Regions from separate parts of the Homo sapiens genome. Here region 2 is linked to region 1. Evidence: fine-mapped expression QTL. A gene starts in region 1. The other region holds a variant in brackets. All regions are shown on one strand. Distances are between the middles of the regions.

Evidence for each region. PIP is the estimated chance that this variant, and not a neighbour inherited with it, causes the effect.
Region 2: its variant is fine-mapped to the expression of SERPINI2 in pancreas (GTEx, PIP above 0.99).

Annotation. Positions count from the first base shown.
Region 1 is chr3:167,468,783-167,477,927 of GRCh38, forward strand. It overlaps SERPINI2 (serpin family I member 2), which reads right to left and starts at 5,260. Exons shown (of 9, transcript NM_006217.6): 1 at 5,221-5,260; 2 at 2,806-3,062. The coding sequence starts at 3,052. LOC105374197 (a long non-coding RNA gene) reads left to right here and starts at 789. Exons shown (of 3, transcript XR_924683.3): 1 at 789-858; 2 at 2,283-2,339; 3 at 5,590-5,678.
Region 2 is chr3:167,423,060-167,432,204 of GRCh38, forward strand. No RefSeq gene overlaps it. Among named protein-coding and RNA genes, the nearest start is that of LINC01327, 35 kb to the left of the region's middle. The variant G/A (reference allele first, on the strand shown) is at 4,821.

The DNA of each region.
Region 1 (9,145 bases):
ATAGCTGGGAGGCTACAGAAAAGGCTTTCTGAGTAAAGACACGAGAGCTTTTCCAAAAGAATTAATTAAGGTCAGAAATGAAGTGACAGAATCTGAAACTAATTTTCAGAAATCTGAAATACATGAACATCTTTAAAGGAATAAAAAAAGAGAGAAAGGGAGAAAAAGTAGTTCCAAATCATTTGTCAAAGCAAATAGATTTATGTCATGTACTTAAGGTCTAAGTCTATGTGACAAACAGCTGCCCTTTGATAAACTGTTGAACTCAGAAGTCAATGAAAAAAATGTCACTAAGTAGTACAAGTTTGGAGAAGAATATAACATTATCTGCCCTATAAATTTTATTTCGTTTCTAGATTAATGACATTTTTAGCACAGATCAAAAATTATATATCTCCTAATAAGTAATGACAACAAGTTTATTTCATTTTCTAAAATAGAGCCATGGATAACCCACAGGTCATGGGTGAATGTGGCTCTTGATTTGATTGTACCAGACCTCCAGAAAATGTTCTAAAATTCAGTGCATGTTCTCTTCTGCTAGTAAAAGTCTAAAAGCCAATTTTGTGTGCATATGGGAGATCCAAAGATGAAAACAAACGTAGTCGTAGAATTATAGATTATTTCAGCCAAAAGGTCCAAATAAATTACCTAACCTCAACTTTTCTTTTTACAGTGAGGAATCTGAGGCCCAGAGAGATTAAGAAGCTTCACAAGTGACATGACTTGTGCCAAATCACAAGGTCATTTAGTTGCAGAACTGGGACAGGAATTCATGCCCAGTTCTCTTTTCAAAACCCTGTGGAAAAAAGAAGCACATTGAATTTAGCCTTTGATTCGTCATCAGCATTATCAGAGGTAAAGCAAAAGGGAGTATTAACAGATGTTCAGCAAAATGGAGGAGGTAAATTCAGAGCAGATGTTTTGACAATGAAGTAAAGAAGGAGAACTGAGGACACTGAGAGCCTTACATAATATATGAGAATTAATATTCTTATTAATATATTAGTGAGAATATATTGCTCTTATATTCTTAATCCTCACTGAATTATTTTAGGAATTAGCACTGAGCAAATTATTTAACCTTTCTTTGCCTCAGTTTTCTCAGGTTTATTACAAGGTTGTTTACTTAACAAAGTAATTATAAATATTAAATGAGAGAATATATATTAAGCACATGAAACAGTGGCTGATATCCTTTCTATATTTTTGATAGTGCGTTATTACTATTACTTTATCATGTTCACAATTCACACCTGTTAAAACTTCTGTGTTTCTCTATATCATGTATCCATTTAAAGTAATTTAAGTTTTCAGAGACTCTAATTTATGTATCTTCACAAATATTGTATTACTTTTTCAAAGCTATAGCATGTGGTTTAAACGTTTCTGGGAGTGGTATATTGGGATTTGCTGAAATTAATCAAGACTAAATCTGGAATACATTGGCTTCAGTGTGCACTATTTGCAAAGAAAAATTCTTACAATTAACTTCACTTCACTATTACCAACGTCTTTTCTGTATAAAATTGTCTTTATTTAAAATGAAGCAAATAAAATCTTGTAAATAGTATTTTCAGGAAAGCAAATTTCTAAATACTGCTACTCTGTGATAAGAAAAATACACTGAAATTATAGTTGTAGCAACTAAATTCCCAAATCAAAAATCTGTATTTAGAACACAGTATCTCAGAGTAATCCAAAAGCTGAAAATTAAAACAACTATAGAAACTGAGAGCATGAGATAGCTGAGGAGATGAGCAACAACTTTTTTTTTTTTTTTTTTTTTTTTTTTTTGGAGAAGGAGTCTGTTCTTTTGCCCTGGCTGGAGTGCAGTGGCACGATCTCAGCTCACTGCAACCTCTGCCTCTTGGGTTCAAGCACTTCTCCTGCCTTAGCCTCTCAAGTAGCTGAGACTATAGGCACATGCCACCATGCCTTGCAAATTTTTGTATTTTTCCAGCCTGGTCTCGAACTCCTGACCTCAAGTGATCCACCTGCCTCAGCCTCCCAAAGTGCTGAGATTACATGTGTGAGCCACCACACCAGCCAAGCAACAATTCTTTCAAATGGGATGCCAGCACAAAAGCACAGTATCCCAGTAAGAGGGATAGACACTATCCCAGACAGTCCATGAGGAGACTCCAACAAAACAATCATCATTCACAAGCACAAAGGCCTCTGATTATTTAAATCCTTTTTTTTCCATTTTCCTTTTAAAACTAGTAACAAATAAGCTTTTAAAATGAACAAATTAATGTTTTTTCTTGGTCTCGTTACAGATGAGGTGCATTTTTTTTAAGAGAAATGTTGGAAACAACCTACTGAAGAAAGGCTAAGTAAGTAATGGTACTTCTATAAGAGGCAATAAGATACAGTAATTAAAAATCATATTTTGAATCAGTTCCATGACATGGGAAAATGATCACAACATAGTGATAGTGGAAGAATATGTATGTGTATAGATGTATATTTTATGAGTATGTACATACACACACACACATGCACGCCCAGTATAATCTCAAGTAATTAAAACTGGCTAAAACAAACTAAAAGAAAATGTACAAATATTTACTTAATTTTACATTTATATAGATGTCAATTTCTTAATAATTTTTGTAACCTTTTAAAGGAATTAATTATAAATGAATGAAAATTACATTTACAATTCTCCATTTTATTACAATTTTGTACTTTTCATTACATTTTCACTTATTAAAATTTCTTTATCCTGAACTTCTAATATTAAAAAATGAATGCGTCCATATCTTATCCAGTATAAGTAAGGAGATGTAAGAGTCTCACCAGCTGAGGTTTCCTGTTGTTTTAAAGTTTGTCTTATCTGCTGCTGTGCTTTTCCTTTGGCTCCCAGTTGTACCATCTCAAGAACCAAAGTTATTCCAAGGGGTGAAAATATAATGTTGTCCTTATGAGATAAGGAAACCTCTTGATAAAGATCCACTGCAAATTCGGTATTTTTTTGAGCTGAGCATCTTGAGGCTTGACTTCCAAAAAACAGCAATAGAAGACTCCACAAGAAGATTGTGTCCATTTTGACTTCTCTGTATTGTTTAAATCAAAATATATTCATTTTCAAAATAGAGTTTTCCACAGAGAGCTCAACAGAAAACTTTCTACCTGTTGTAGCTTTCTATCTTAATAGAACTTACTACCACAAGTGAACTCTATCCAATTAGATTTCTAAGTATCATCTATTCAGAAAAATAGTTCATGTGTTAATGGTATTTCTTACATATCTTCAAGAACCAGTAGAAAATATACTTGTAGTTTTGTAGCAAAAATCAAAAAAGACACTACAATGTTGGAATGTTATCAATGGCAATGGTATCTCCAAATAGTTATACAATAGTTTTTTTCTATCTTTTCTCATGGTTAAGTGGGATAACTGTAACTCTGACATCAGGTAAACCTTCTGTGCTGTCTACTCTACAGTAATTTATAGATCAAGAGGAAGAAATGGAATAAAAACAGACTTACTCCAGTGTGGTTTTAGACCTATAATATTAGAAAATTAATGTATTCTAAAGCAACTGAGTAATCTGGCTAACTTTTTACAATTTTCCTCACGCTTTATTTCTTAGGACAAAATAACCCAAAGCCCTCTTCCTGCTTTTCCAAAAGAAGACAAATACAATGCAGAAAACCTGCAAAGTTTGAAACAAAATGGCAATCAAATATAAATGATACAATAAAGTACTATGCTCACTACCTGGGTGATGAGATCATTTATACCCCAAACCTTAGTGTCAGGCCATATACCCATGTAGCAAACCTGCACATGTACATTAATCTGTAATAAAACTTGAAATTATAAAAGAAAAAATATAAATAAAATGAAATATAATATCAAAGAATTGACAGAAATACTAACAAATGTAAGAGTAGCAGCAATTAAAAACCATAAACAATTCACAAGACTAATAATACCCTATTAAAGTGCTCTCCACTAAAATTGCAGGAAATTCAACCATTTGATTATATCTCAAGCAGAATTAGTTTTGCAATATTACCACATATTTGGTAGAATGTTGACTCCAAGGCCTCATAAATTTTAGTAACAATAATTTTACCTTATAAATAATACATGTTAGTAATCCTTAAAAACTTATCCATCAGTAAGTTACTAGGAAGTAACCCTTAATTAGGGGTAAAGATGAAAGCCTTTAGAATAGTCTGTTGTCAGCCTTAAGTAGAGACTTACATTTCTAGAGTGTTTTGCAGATCATTAAGGGTACCATAAATGGTAGGAGTCCCTAAGAACAACTATATTTATATATAAAGATTACTAATAGTCAAATATTGTTCCAAATTAAACTATGGAGTCATTATTTATCCTTCAATGTATTTTGTTAAACTGTATTTGTTTAGATATATATTTGCAAAAGACAAAAGCCTCAAAAAACAATCCAAAGCAATTGTTAGAAAATGTGTTGGTAAACTTTAGATATAGACCTATATGCTATTAATATCAAGCAAATGTTTCATTAGGGATTAATTTAGCATATGAGCTTATAAATGAGAGTGCAACAATAGTTAAAAACCAGTGAGTAAGAGAAGTTTTACATGCAAAATAAATGTCTGTGTATCATTATCTTCTAATATATTCAATTTCTCAGAAGACTTCTGACCAAAATATGTGTTTGTAGATACGTAGTCAAAATGTTATTAGTACCTTTAAGTTATCAACTGGAAATACATTAGATATAGCTTTATGTATTTGGTTTATATTGGAATAATGAACAGTATTATTAAAAATGTAATTTTTTTCTTTGTGGTAGAATCTCAGTATTAGAGTTTCCTTCTCATTATTATTAATAATCTTAATAATTAAATTTATATTATTTGAGCATCCACATCCATTTTTTCTAGAAAATTTCTAAGCACTTAATAAATTATAACCTCAGACAAATATTGGTTTTAAAAACTCACTTACCTCATCAGGTTTTGGATCATATCTTATCAGAAAGCACAAAGTAATGCTGAACTAAACAACCTGATGAATAGTCCTATAAGAACTGGATCTTCTGATTTGTGGTGAAATCATTTAAGGAGAATAAAAGCGATATGTTAATTAAATAAATTCAAATGATTTTTACACCAAAGTAAATTGAAATGCCATTCCATACTCTACTAAACATTCATAGGCAATGTTATTGCATACATACTTATTCAAAAGCTATTTATTTCTAAGGTACTTACCCCAAACTGACTTCTGATTATTCACTGGAATGTTACAACTAAAATACGCTTGCTGGAAAACTCTTGTACATAAACACCTGAGCGATCAAGGCCAACTCCATTTATCTTGACCATTGCTTGATTAATTCCTCTAGAACAAAAGCAGGTGTTCACTACATTTGTATTAAGAACTAACACAATCGGGTTAATGATCAACTGATGAAATGTGCAAGAATTGAGAAAAAAACAATTATAGAATTTTTTAAAAGTATTAAATTTATATTATTATTTTATCCATTATTTTGCTTCTTTTAAAAGTTGCACAGAATTTGAAAGGATGCGCTACTGGTTGTAAATTTGCTAGTAATTAGTTCTTTTTGTTTCTCACAGGACTCCTACATCAGATTACCAATGCACTTTGTCATAAATATTTCAGAATGCCTATGAGAAAAAGAATAAAGCTAAATCAAGTCCAGAATACAGAGACAAATCACTGCTGCATTGACAGAGTTCTCAACATTCATCAAATTATACAATAGTCAGAGGAGTTTCCTGTGGATATAAGGTCCATTTGAATCCTTAAGAAAAAGAGTGGATATTGAAGAAATATGTTCTTTATTCTGAGCAGAAAGGCCAGCAAAAAAGATAATGGATTTGCCAAAATATATCAGGACAATACTATTAGCCATAGGTAATTGGATGATAAAAATTGCTGTTACCTTTATGTGCTTTTGAAACTCTACATGATTTTCTTTGCAAAAAGGTCATTAATAAAAAATTGCATAATTTAATGGGTTTCATCTCATTTTTGTAGTTCAAATCAATCACCTCAATGGCAATCAGATATTAAGCACATTGTATTATTTATCTATAGCCTTTGAGAAGAGAAAAAAAATTTAGTTCACTTTTAATTAAATATCTGTTGATCCCCAAATTTAATACTATTTCTGATAAACTCATGTAAAAGAAATAAAGTGAATATAGATAGCTTTAAATGGAATTCATTTTTAAAAACTTGTCAGAGGACCCTGTTAACATCTTTCCATGTCCTAACATGGCTATAACTTAAAAATAGGCCTGAGAATAGATCATTATAGGCCATAATCTACTAATTAACTAAAATTTTTTGATTTCCCATATAGGCATCTCCAAATGTTTTCTAGATCTTGAGTTTTATTCTAATATTACCTACTCTATCATAAGCACACTCTAGTGTAGCTTTAACTTAACACAGAGATAATTTTCCAAAAAGAGTTGTGCAATACAAGAATACTATCATTCTACTTGCTTCACACTGCAATACATAAATATTAAGTCTGAATGTCAAGACTATCATTCAATCAATGCTTTTCTACCCATTTACTGACACCAGCAAACATATATCACCAGTACCCTTGGCTACCACATCATTATGTCTGTACACTGCTCAGATCACAATGTGATTTATCCAGAAATAGTCCATTACTTTTCCTACCAATGGCAGAGACCGTCACTCTGTCCTACTAAGACCATTTAATGAAATTGTTCTGTAAGGACCTTATATTAGAGCAGTTCAGGCAGAATGTTCATTTTCCTGTCTCTTGAGGAGTAAAAAGCAATAGCCATAAATTTATTCTCCCTGGTTTAACCTCTTTTAATAGACAATGACGACAATACAATTGTCCATAAAATATTACCACAAATTTTTAAAATATTTTCCCAAACCGCTTTTTTCTACAATTCTATTTTGCTCCTAGAAAATCGGGGTGGGGGGAGAATTATTCATTAATGAGAGCCAACGTGTCTTGGTAGAAGGTTGATCGCCATTACTGTCCGACTGTAAAGTATAAGCCTAGGAATATATATAAAAACCACAGCAAAGGGTTACAGTTATCATCTCATCAATTTTCTTATCCTTTTATAGTTTTTTCAAGTAAAAGTGCACTTAATTCCAAACTTTAAAAATGTATAAGCAAATGCCCTCATCAGTAAAGAACTTAAAAGTTAATTCTTCCATTTAAGCATGGACTCATTTCAGGCAATTTTTTTTGGTAAGATTGTTCCTAAATTTTGAGTGATAATAGGAAAATGTTCTGACAAAAGAAAATGTTAAATTATATTTAGTGTAAATATAAGTAATACAAACAAGGTAGCCTATTGAAAATTATGACATATCCTATTTTAATGTGACCAATTCCTTTTACCACAGAAAAATGGATCATAAGTAATTGAATCTGAATGTTAATTTCAGAAACAGTTTATAATGCCTTCAGTTCTGTTAAGAGTTGACAGGTGAGATCCTGCTACCTGCCTAGAAAATTAGATGCTGTGAGTTACAAAAGAAGAGTAAGACACAGAAAAAAAGACATTGTCTTTTTTCTTCTTTTTGTGTTTTTTCTCCAAATTATTAGAAACAGTTACCTTGAAAGTCTCATACCTTTAAAAGTTCTCTTCTCATTGAATATATTTATGAGACAGCTCTTCTTAATTCCTTTTACAGAAGAAGCCCTGATGTTAATTAAGGATGGAATTAGAGTTACAGCATAATACCATGCACATGTAGTAGGCTATAGAGAGAAGGTCTGTCTGTATGAACCAGACTATCTCAGGCTATCACATCAAACAAAGTTATCTTCAAGGGTAAACAGTAAAGTATATCTAGCAAAAGAATTCCCAAATTAGACTGGAAAAAATATGCCAGATTATGAATTTCCAACTTATGCCAGTGGGCTCATTTAGTATTGGCTTAATAAACCACTACATTTTATATAGCTTCACTTCAGAACGCTGAGGGTAGAAAAGGTGCATTCTATTTATATGTGAATACCCGGAACCTAAAATAATCTCTTATACATGCCTTCAATACTTACATGAGGGATGGACGGATCAGTGGGGAAAAGAGCCTTTGCAAATTATTTGGTACCCGCATTCTACTTTTATAACATCTTAACATTCCATTAAATTTCTGGGCATGTGGCTCAGATTTCACTCCATTGTACTATCACCAACCTATGATTCATAAATCATGTGCTCTGAGTTTGAAATGATGGATTACCCAGTCAAACCTCCTACCCAGTGCAAGAAGTCTTTGCAATATCCCCGTGAGACAGTTACCCAGTGTCTGCTTGAACATCTCAAATAATCTTTTTGTTCAAAAGCAACTTTTTATATTTTAAAAAAATTTACCTTGAAATACTTTCAAATTTACATAAAAGTTGCAGATATAGTTCAAAGAACTGCTATCTCCACCTCCTCCTCTTTCCCCAATTGTTAGCATCTACCGCATGTGTGTGTTTCATCTATGTATCTATCCTCCCAATAAGCAAACAGATGTAAATATAGATATGTATATGTGTTACCTGTGTGTGCATATATATACATTTTATATATACATATAATTAGTATTTTCTGAATCATTTTATAGCAAGCTAAAAACATAATTTCTATCATACTTAAACATTCTATTATTATATTTTTCTAAAACAAGGACACTTCTTGTACATCATCACACCACCCAACAGACAAACACACACGCACACACACACAGAGACAAATATACTTTTCTCCTACAATCTTTCCTGCATGTAATTTTCATTCCATGAGGAGGAAAGGCGATATGAATAGAAGTCATAATGCCTAACTCAGAATACACTTAAATGTAGTTAGAATAGGCAGCTGTCTTCTGAAAGTCCTTCCATCACCGCCTTCTCCACCAAACCAAAATATTTGCTCCACTGGTGCTGGAAAGTCTAGTGTTAGAATTCATTCCATTGGCTTTATACTAATAAGAAGCAAGTGTACAGAATGATGAATGGCAAATACCATGGTTTGGGAGTAAAACAGACCTGGGTTCCAATCTCAACTCTGCCATTGATAATTGAGCACTCTCCTAATAGATTCGCATCTCATATTTTAGCTCTAAGCTAATATATTCATATGATTATTGTGTGGTTTAAACACAATGGAC
Region 2 (9,145 bases), 46 kb before region 1:
TCTTGGCGCCATCCTTCAATCTCTCCCTTCTCTTAATTTTAGTTCCTTTCCTTTTGCGGTAGCATCAGAGGAGACACGTTTTATCCGTGAACCCAAAACTCTGGCACCGGTCACGGACTCGGGAAGACAGTCTTCCCTTGATGTTTAATCACTGTGGGGACACCTGCTTGATTATTCACCCACATTTCAGAGGTGTCTGATCACCACAGGGATGCCTGCCTTGGTCCTTTACCCTTAGTGGCAAGCACCACTTTTTTGGGGGGCAATCACCCCCTGCCCCTTCTCTCCGTGTCTCTACCCTCTCTTTTCTCCTCACTTTCCTGGGGGGCAAGAATCCCCCACCCCTTCTCTCCATGTCTCTACCCTCTCTTTTCTCAGGGCTTGCCTCCTTCACTATGGGCAAACTTCCACCCTCTATTCCTCCCTCTTCTCCCTTAGCCTGTGTTCTCAAAAACTTAAAACCTCTTCAACTCACACCTGACCTAAAACCTAAATGCCTTATTTTCTTCTGCAATACCGCTTGGCCCCAATACAAACTTGACAATTGCTCTAAATGGACAGAAAATGGCACTTTCAATTTCTCTATCTTAGAAGACCTAGCTAATTTTTGTTGAAAAATGGGCAAATGGTCTGAGGTGCCTTACATCTAGGCATTTTTCACACTTTGTTCCCTCCCTAGTCCGTGTTCCCAATGTGATTCCTCCCAAATCCTCCTTCTTTCCCTCCCACCTGTCGCCTCAGTCCCAACCCCAAGTGTAGCTGAGTCTTTCCAATCTTCGTTTTCTACAGACCCATCTGACCTCTCCCCTCCTCCCCAGGCTGCTCATCGCCAGGCCGAGCCAAGTCCCAATTCTTCCTCAGTCTCCTCTCCTCCACCCTATACTCCTTCTATCACCTCCCCTCCTCACACCCAGTCCAGCTTACAGTTTGGTTCTGTGACTAGCTGTTCCCCACCTGCCCAAAAATTTCCTTTTAGAGAGATGGCTGGAACTGAAGGCATAGTCAGGATACATGTGCCTTTTTCTCTATCAGACCTCTCTCAGATCAGTTGGAGTTTAGGCTCTTTCTCATCAGGCCCCACTAAATATATACAGGAATTCCAACATCTAACTCTGTCCTACAATTTAACCTGGAGTGACTTAAATGTCATCCTAACTTCTACCCTCTCCCCAGATGAATGGGAAAGAGGTTTTTCTCTGGCCCAATCTCACACTGACAACTGCCAGCTCCATGAGCCAGACCTCCAGGAAGGCATTAGAGCAGTTCCCCAAGAGGATCCCCAATGGAACTATTAGGCAGATTCCCCAGGTATAGCTAGGCGAGATTACATGATTTCCTGCCTAGTTGAAAGGCTTTAAAAGGCAGCTTACAAAGCTGTTAATTATGACAAGCTTAAAGAAACTACCCAAGGTAAAGACGAAAACCCAGCCCAGTTCATGGCTCATTTGGCAGCAACCCTGAGATGCTTTACAGCCCTAGACCCTGAAGTGTCAGAAGGCTGTCTCATTCTAAATATGAATTTTATCACCCAGTCATCTCCTGACATTAGAAAAAAGCTTCAAAAATTAGAATCCAGCCCTCAAACCCCACAACAGGAATTAATCAACCTCACCTTCAAGGTGTACAATAATAGAGAGGAGGCAGCCAGACAGCAACGCATTTCTGAGTTACAATTATTTGCCTCTGCTGTGAGAAAAAACCCAGCCACACCTCCATCACACAAGAACTTCAAAATGCCTAAGCTGCACATGCCTAAGCTGCAGCAGTCAAGCATTCCTACAGGACTTCCTCCATCAGGATCTTGCTTCAAGTGTCAGAAATCTGGCCACTGGGTCAAGGAATGCCTGCAGCCCAGGATTCCTCCCAAGCTGTGTCCCATCTGTGCAGGGACCCACTCGAAATCAGACTGCCTAGCTCACCCAGCAGCCACTCCTAGAGCCCCTAAAACTCTAGCCCAAGGCTTTCTGACTGACTCCTTCCCAGATCTGCTTGGCTTAGTGGCTGAAGACTGACGCTGTCCAATCATCTTGGAAGCCCCCTGGACCATCACGGATGCCAGGCTTTGGGTAACTCTCACAGTGGAGGGTAAGTCCATCCCCTGTTTAATTGCTATGGGGGCTACCCACTCCACATTACCTTCTTTGCAAAGGCCTGTTTCACTTGCCCCCATAACTGTTGTGGGTATCGATGGCCAAGCTTCAAAATCCCTTAAAACTCCCCCACTCTAGTGCCATCTTGGACAACATTCTTTTATGCAATCTTTTTTAGTTATCCCCACCTGCCCAGCTCCCTTATTAGGCCAAGATATTTTAACCAAATTATCTGATTCACTGACTATTCCTGGACTACAGCCACATCTCATTGTCACCCTTCTTCCCAACCCAAAGTCTCCTTTGCGTCTTCCTCTCATATCCCCCCACCTTAACCCACAAGTATGGGACAGCTCTACTCCCTCCCTGGCAACTGATCACATGCCCATTACTATCCCATTAAAACCTAATCACCGTTACCCCACTCAACACCAATATCCCATCCACAGCACACTTTAAAAGGATTAAAGCCTGTTATCACTTGCCTGCTACAGCATGGGCTTCTAAAACCTATAAACTCTCCTTTCAACTCCATTTTACCTGTCCAAAAACCGGACAAGTCTTATAGGTTAGTTCAGGATCTGCGCCTTATCAACCAAATTGTTTTGCCTGTCCACCCTGTAGTGCCCAACCCGTATACTCTTTTGTCCTCAATGCCTTCCTCCACAACTCACTATTCCATTCTTGATCTTAAAGATGCTTTTTTCACTATTCCCCTGCACCCCTCATCCCAGCCGCTCTTTGCTTTTACCTGGACTGATCCTGACACCCACCAGTCCCAGCAGCTTACCTGGGCTGTGCTGCCGCAAGGCTTCAGGGACAGCTCTCATTACCTCAGCCAAGCTCTTTCTCATGATTTACTTTCTTTCCACCCCTCTGCTTCTCACCTTATTCAATATATTGATGACCTTCTACTTTGTAGCCCCTCCTTTCAATCTTCCCAACAAGACGCCCTCCTGCTCCTTCAATATTTATTCTCCAAAGCATATCGGTTATCCCCCTCTGAAGCTCAAATTTCTTCTCCATCCATTACTTACCTTGGCATAATTCTTCATAAAAACACACTGCTCTCCCTGCCAATCATGTCCTACTGATCTCTCAAACCCCAGCACCTTCTACAAAACAACAACTCCTTTCCTTACTAGGCATGGTTGGATACTTTCGCCTTTGGATAGCTGGTTTTGCCATCCTAACAAAACCATTATATAAACTCACAAAAGGAAACCTAGCTGACCCCATAGATCCTAAATCCTTTCCCCACTCCTCTTTTCCATTCCTTGAACACAGCTTTAGAGACTGCTGCCACACTAGCTCTCCCTGACTCATCCCAACCCTTTTCACTACACACAGCCAAAGTGCAGGACTGTGGAGTTGGAATTCTTACACAAGGACCAGGACCATGCCCTATAGCCTTTTTGTCCAAACAACTTGACCTTACTGTTTTAGACTGGCCATCATGTCTCCGTGCAGCAGCTGCTGCCACCCTAATACTTTTAGAGGCCCTCAAAATCACAAACTGTGCTCAACTCACTCTCCACAGCTCTCATAACTTCCAAAATCTATTTTCTTCCTCACACCTGATGCATATACTTTCTGCTCTGTGGCTCCTTCAGCTATATTCGCTCCTTGTTGAATCTCCCACAATTAGCATTGTTCCTGGCCTGGACTTCAATCTGGCCTTCCACATTATTCTGGATGCCACACCTGACCCCCATGACTGTATCTGTCTGATCCACCTGACATTCACCCCATTTCCCCATATTTCCTTCTTTCCTGTTCCTCACCCTGATCACATTTGGTTTATTGATGGCAGCTCCACCAGGCCTAATTGCCACTCACCAGCAAAGGCAGGCTATGCTATAGTGTCTTCCACATCTATCATTGAGGCTACCGCTCTGCCCCCCTCCACTACCTCTCAGCAAGCCAAACTCATTGCCTTAACTCAGCCCCTTACTCTTGCAAAGGGACTACACATCAATATTTATACTGACTCTAAACACGCCTTCCATATCCTGCACCACCATGCTGTTATATGGGCAGAAAGAGGTTTCCTCACTACACAATGGTCCTCCATCATTAATGCCTCTTTAATAAAAACTCATCTCAAAGCCGTTTTACTCCCAAAGGAAGCTGGAGTCATTCACTGCAAGGGCCATCAAAAGGCATCAGATCCCATTGCTCTAGGCAATGCTTATGCTGGTAAGGTAGCTAGCTAAAGAAGCAGCTAGCGTTTCAACTTCTATCCCTTATGGCCAGTTTTTCTCCTTCTCATCAATCACTCCCACCTACTCCCCCACTGAAACTTCCACCTATCATTCTCTTCCCACAAAAGGCAAATGGTTCTTGGATCAAGGAAAATATCTCCTTCCAGCCTCACAGGCCCATTCTATTCTTTCATCATTTCATAACCTTTTCCATGTAGGTTACAAGCTGCTAGCCTGTCTCTTAGAACCTCTCACTTCCTTTCCATCATGGAAATCTATACTCAAGGAAATCACTTCTCAGTGTTCCATCTGCTATTCTACTACCCCTCAGGGATTGTTCAGGCCCCCTCCCATCCGTACACATCAAGCTCAGAGATTTGCCCCTGCCCAGGACTGGCAAATTGACTTTACTCACATGCCCCAAGTCAGGAAACTAAAATACCTCTTGGTCTTGGTAGACACCTTCACTGGATGGGTAGAGGTCTTTCCCACAGGGTCACCATGGTCATTTCTTCCCTTCTGTCAG[G/A]CATAATTCCTTGGTTTGGCCTTCCCACCTCTATACAGTCTGATAATGGACGGGCCTTTACTAGTCAAATCACCCAAGCAGTTTCTCAGACTCTTGGTATTCAGTGGAATCTTCATATCCCTTACTGTCCTCAATCTTCAGGAAAGGTAGAGTGGACTAATGGTCTTTTAAAGACACACCTCACCATGCTCAGCCTCCAACTTAAAAAGGGCTGGACAGTACTTTTACCTCTTGCCCTTCTCAGAATTAGAGCTTGTCCTCAAGGTGCTACAGGGTGCAGTCCATTTGAACTTTTATATGGATGCACTTTCTTGCTCGGTCCCAACCAGGTCCCAGACACCAGCCCTCTAGGAGACTATCTTCCAGTCCTCCAGCAGGCTAGACAGGAAATTCACCAGGCTGCTAATCTTCTCTTACCTACTCCAGATTCTCAGCCATATGAAGACACTCTAGCTGGATGATCAGTTCTTGTTAAGAATCTGACCCCTCAAACTCTACAACCTTGATGGAACGGACCCTACTTAGTCATCTATAGTACCCCAACTGCCTTCCACCTGCAGGATCCTCCCCACTGGGTTCGCCATTCCAGAATAAAGCTGTGTCCATTGGACAGCCAGCCTAATTTCTCTTCTTCCTCCTGGAAATCACAAGTACTCTCTCCTACTTCCCTTAAACTCACTCGCATTTCTGAAGAAGAGTAATAACACTTATGAGCCTAATACATCCCTTCATTCTATTAGGTCTGTTTGTCCTTACCCTACTTTTTGCAAAGGGCTTTATCCAGTCACCCCCACTACTTGGACTGAGCCCCAAAATCTAGTCATCCCTACTGTCTCTGTCTAGTCATACTCCTATTCACCATTCTCAACTATTCATAAATGCCTACTCTTGTTTACACTGCCAGTTTATGCTGTTTCTCCAAGCCATCACAGCTGATATCTCCTGGTGCTGTCCCCAACAACCACTCTTAACTCCCTCTTAGAGTAGATAGATGATCTTTGCTGGCAGGGCACCCTCCAATACTTTCACCTTGATAAAGTTCTATTCTTTACTTTTATACTCACTCTTATTCTCATTCTCACGCCACCCTCTACCTCTCCCCAGCTATCTCTACCACACTATCAACCTTACTCACTCTCTCCTAGCCGTTTCTAATCCCTCCTTAGTGAACAATTGCTGGCTTTGCCTTTCCCTTTCTTCCAGCATCTACACAGCTGTCCCTGCCTTACATACAGACTGGGCAATATCTCCTGTCTCCTTATACCTCTGAACTTCCTTTAACAGCCCTCACCTTTACCCTCCTGAAGAACTCATTTACTTTCTAGACAGGTCCAGCAAGACATCCCCAGACATTTCACATCAGCAAGCTGCAGCCCTCCTCTGCACTTACTTAAAAAACCTTTCTCCTTATATCAACTCTACTCCCCCCATATTTGGACCTCTCACAACACAAACTACTATTCCTGTGGCCGCTCCTTTATGTATCTCTCAGCAAAGGCCCACTGGAATTCCCCTGGGTAACCTTTCACCTTCTTGATGTTCCTTCCCTCTTCATCTCCAAAGCCCAACTACACACATCACTGAAACAATTGGAGCCTTCCAGCTCTGTACAGAAAAGCCCTCTATCAATACTGGCAAACTTAAAAACAATAGCAGTAATTATTCCTTAGGAAGACACTTACCCTGTATTTCACTCCATCCTTGGCTACCTTCCCCTTGCTCATCAGACTCTCCTCCCAGGCCCGCTTCTTGTTTACTTATATCCAGCCCCATAAATAACAGTGAAAGATTGCTCATAGACACTCAGCGTTTTCTCACACACCATGAAAATCGAACCTCACCCTCTATGCAGTTACCCCATCAGTCCCCGTTACAACCTCTGATGGCTGCCGCCCTAGCTGCATCCCTAAGAGTCTGGGTACAAGACGCCCCTTTCAGCACTCCTTCTCATCTTTTTACTTTGCATTTCCAGTTTTGCCTTGCACAGGTCTCTTCTTCCTTTGTGGATCCTCTACCTACATGTGTCTACCTGCTAATTGGACAGGCACATGCACACTAGTTTTCCATAATCCCCAAATTCAATTTGAAAATGGGACTGAAGAGCTCCCTGTTCCCCTCATGGACACCGACATGACAAAAAATGGTTATTCCACTAATTCCCTTGCTTGTCGGTTTGGACTTTCTGCCTCCACTATTGCTCTCTGTACTGGAATAGCAGGCATTTCAACCTCTGTCATGACCTTCCGTAGCCTCTCTAATGACTTCTCTGTTAGCAGCACAGACATATCACAAACTTTTCTCAGTCCTCCAGGCCCAAGTTGACTCTTTAGCTGCAGTTGTCCTCCAAAACTGCCGAGGCCTTGACTTACTCACTGCTGAAAAAGAAGGACGCTGTGTATTTTTTAATGGAGAGTGTTGTTTTTACCTACATAAATCTGGCCAGGTGTATGACAACATAAAAAAACTCAAGGATAGAGCCCAAAAACTCACCAACCAAGCAAGTAATTACGCTGAACCCCCTTGGGAACTCTCTAATTGGATGTCTTGGGTCCTCCCAATTCTCAGTCCTTTAATACCTATTTTTCTCCTTCTATTATTCGGACCTTGTATCTTCTGTTTAGTTTCTCAATTCATCCAAAACCATATCCAGGCCATCACAAATCATTCTATATGACAAATCCTCCTTCAAACAACCCCACAATATCACACCTTACAAAAAAATCCTCCTTCAACTTGACCACTCCCACTGTAGGTTCCCAGGCTGCTCCTAATCCCGCTTGAAGCAGCCCTGAGACACATCGTCCATTATCTCTCCATACCACCCCCCAAAAAAATTTTTTTCGCTGCCCTAACACTTCAATACTATTTTATGTTATTTTTCTTATTAATATAAGAAGTCAGGAATGCAGGCCTCTGAGCCCAAGCTAAGCCATCGTATCCCCTGTGACCTGCACATATATGTCCAGATGCCCCAAAGCAAGTGAAGAATCACAAAAGAAGTGAAAATGGCCGGTACCTGCCTTAACTGATGACATTAACTTGTGAAATTCCTTCTCCTGGCTCTTCCTGGCTCAAAAAGTCCCCTTCTGAGCACCTTGTGACCCCCACACCTGCCAGCCAGAGAACAACCCCTTTTGACTGTAATGTTCCACTACCTACCCAAATCTTAAAAAATGGCCCCACCCCTATCTCCCTTCACTGACTCTCTTTTCAGACTCAGCCTGCCTGCACCCAGGAGATTAAAAAGGTTTATTGCTCACACAAAGCCTGTTTGGTGGTCTGTACACATGGACATGAGTAAAAATATACATAGGCTGTTTTTAAATAAATCTCAAACCTATAAAGAGACAACTATTAATAAAGAATGTAAAAGATCAAGATCTTTGTGAGAAATACATCTGGAATGTGTCAGGCCTCTGAGCCCAAGCTAAGCCATCATATCCCCTGTGACCTGCACGTACACATCCAGATGGCCAGTTCCTGCCTTAACTGATGACATTCCACCATAAAACAAATGAAAATGGCCTGTTTCCTTCCTTAATTGATGGCATTATCTTGTGAAAGTCCTTCTCCTGGCTTACCCTGGCTCAAAAGCTCCCCTACTGAGCACCTTGTGACCCCCACTCCTGCCTGCCAGAGAACAACCCCCCTTTCCTTTACCTACCCAAATCCTATAGAACGGCCCCACCCCTATCTCCCTTCACTGACTCTCTTTTTGGACTCAGCCCACCTGCACCCAGGTGAAACAAACAGCTTTATTGCTCACACAAAGCCTGTTTAGGGGTCTCTTCACACTGAAGAGAGTGAAATTTGGTGCCGTGACTCAGATCGGGGGACCTCCCTTGGGAGATCAATCCCCTGTCCTCCTGCTCTTTGCTCCTTGAGAAATATCCACCTACGACCTCTGGTCCTCAGACCAACCAGCCCAAGGAACATCTTGCCAATTTTAAATCCAGTAAGCAGCCTCTTTTTACTCTCTTCTCCAACCTCTCTCACTATCCCTCAACCTCTTTCTCCTTTCAATCTTGGTGCCACACTTCAATCTCTCCCTTCTCTTAATTTCAATCCCTTTCATTTTCTGGTAGAGACAAAGGAGACACGTTTTATCCCTGGACCCAAAGCTCCGGTGCTGGTCACGGACTAGGGAAGGCAGCCTTCCCTTGGTGTTTAATCATTGTGGGACACCTCTCTGATTATTCACCCAGGTTTCAGAGGTGTCAGACCATGCAAGGATGCTTGCCTTTGTCCTTCACCCTTTGTGGCAAGTCCTGCTTTTCTGGAGGAGGGGCAAGAACCTCTCAACCCCTTCTCCTTCACCCTTAGCG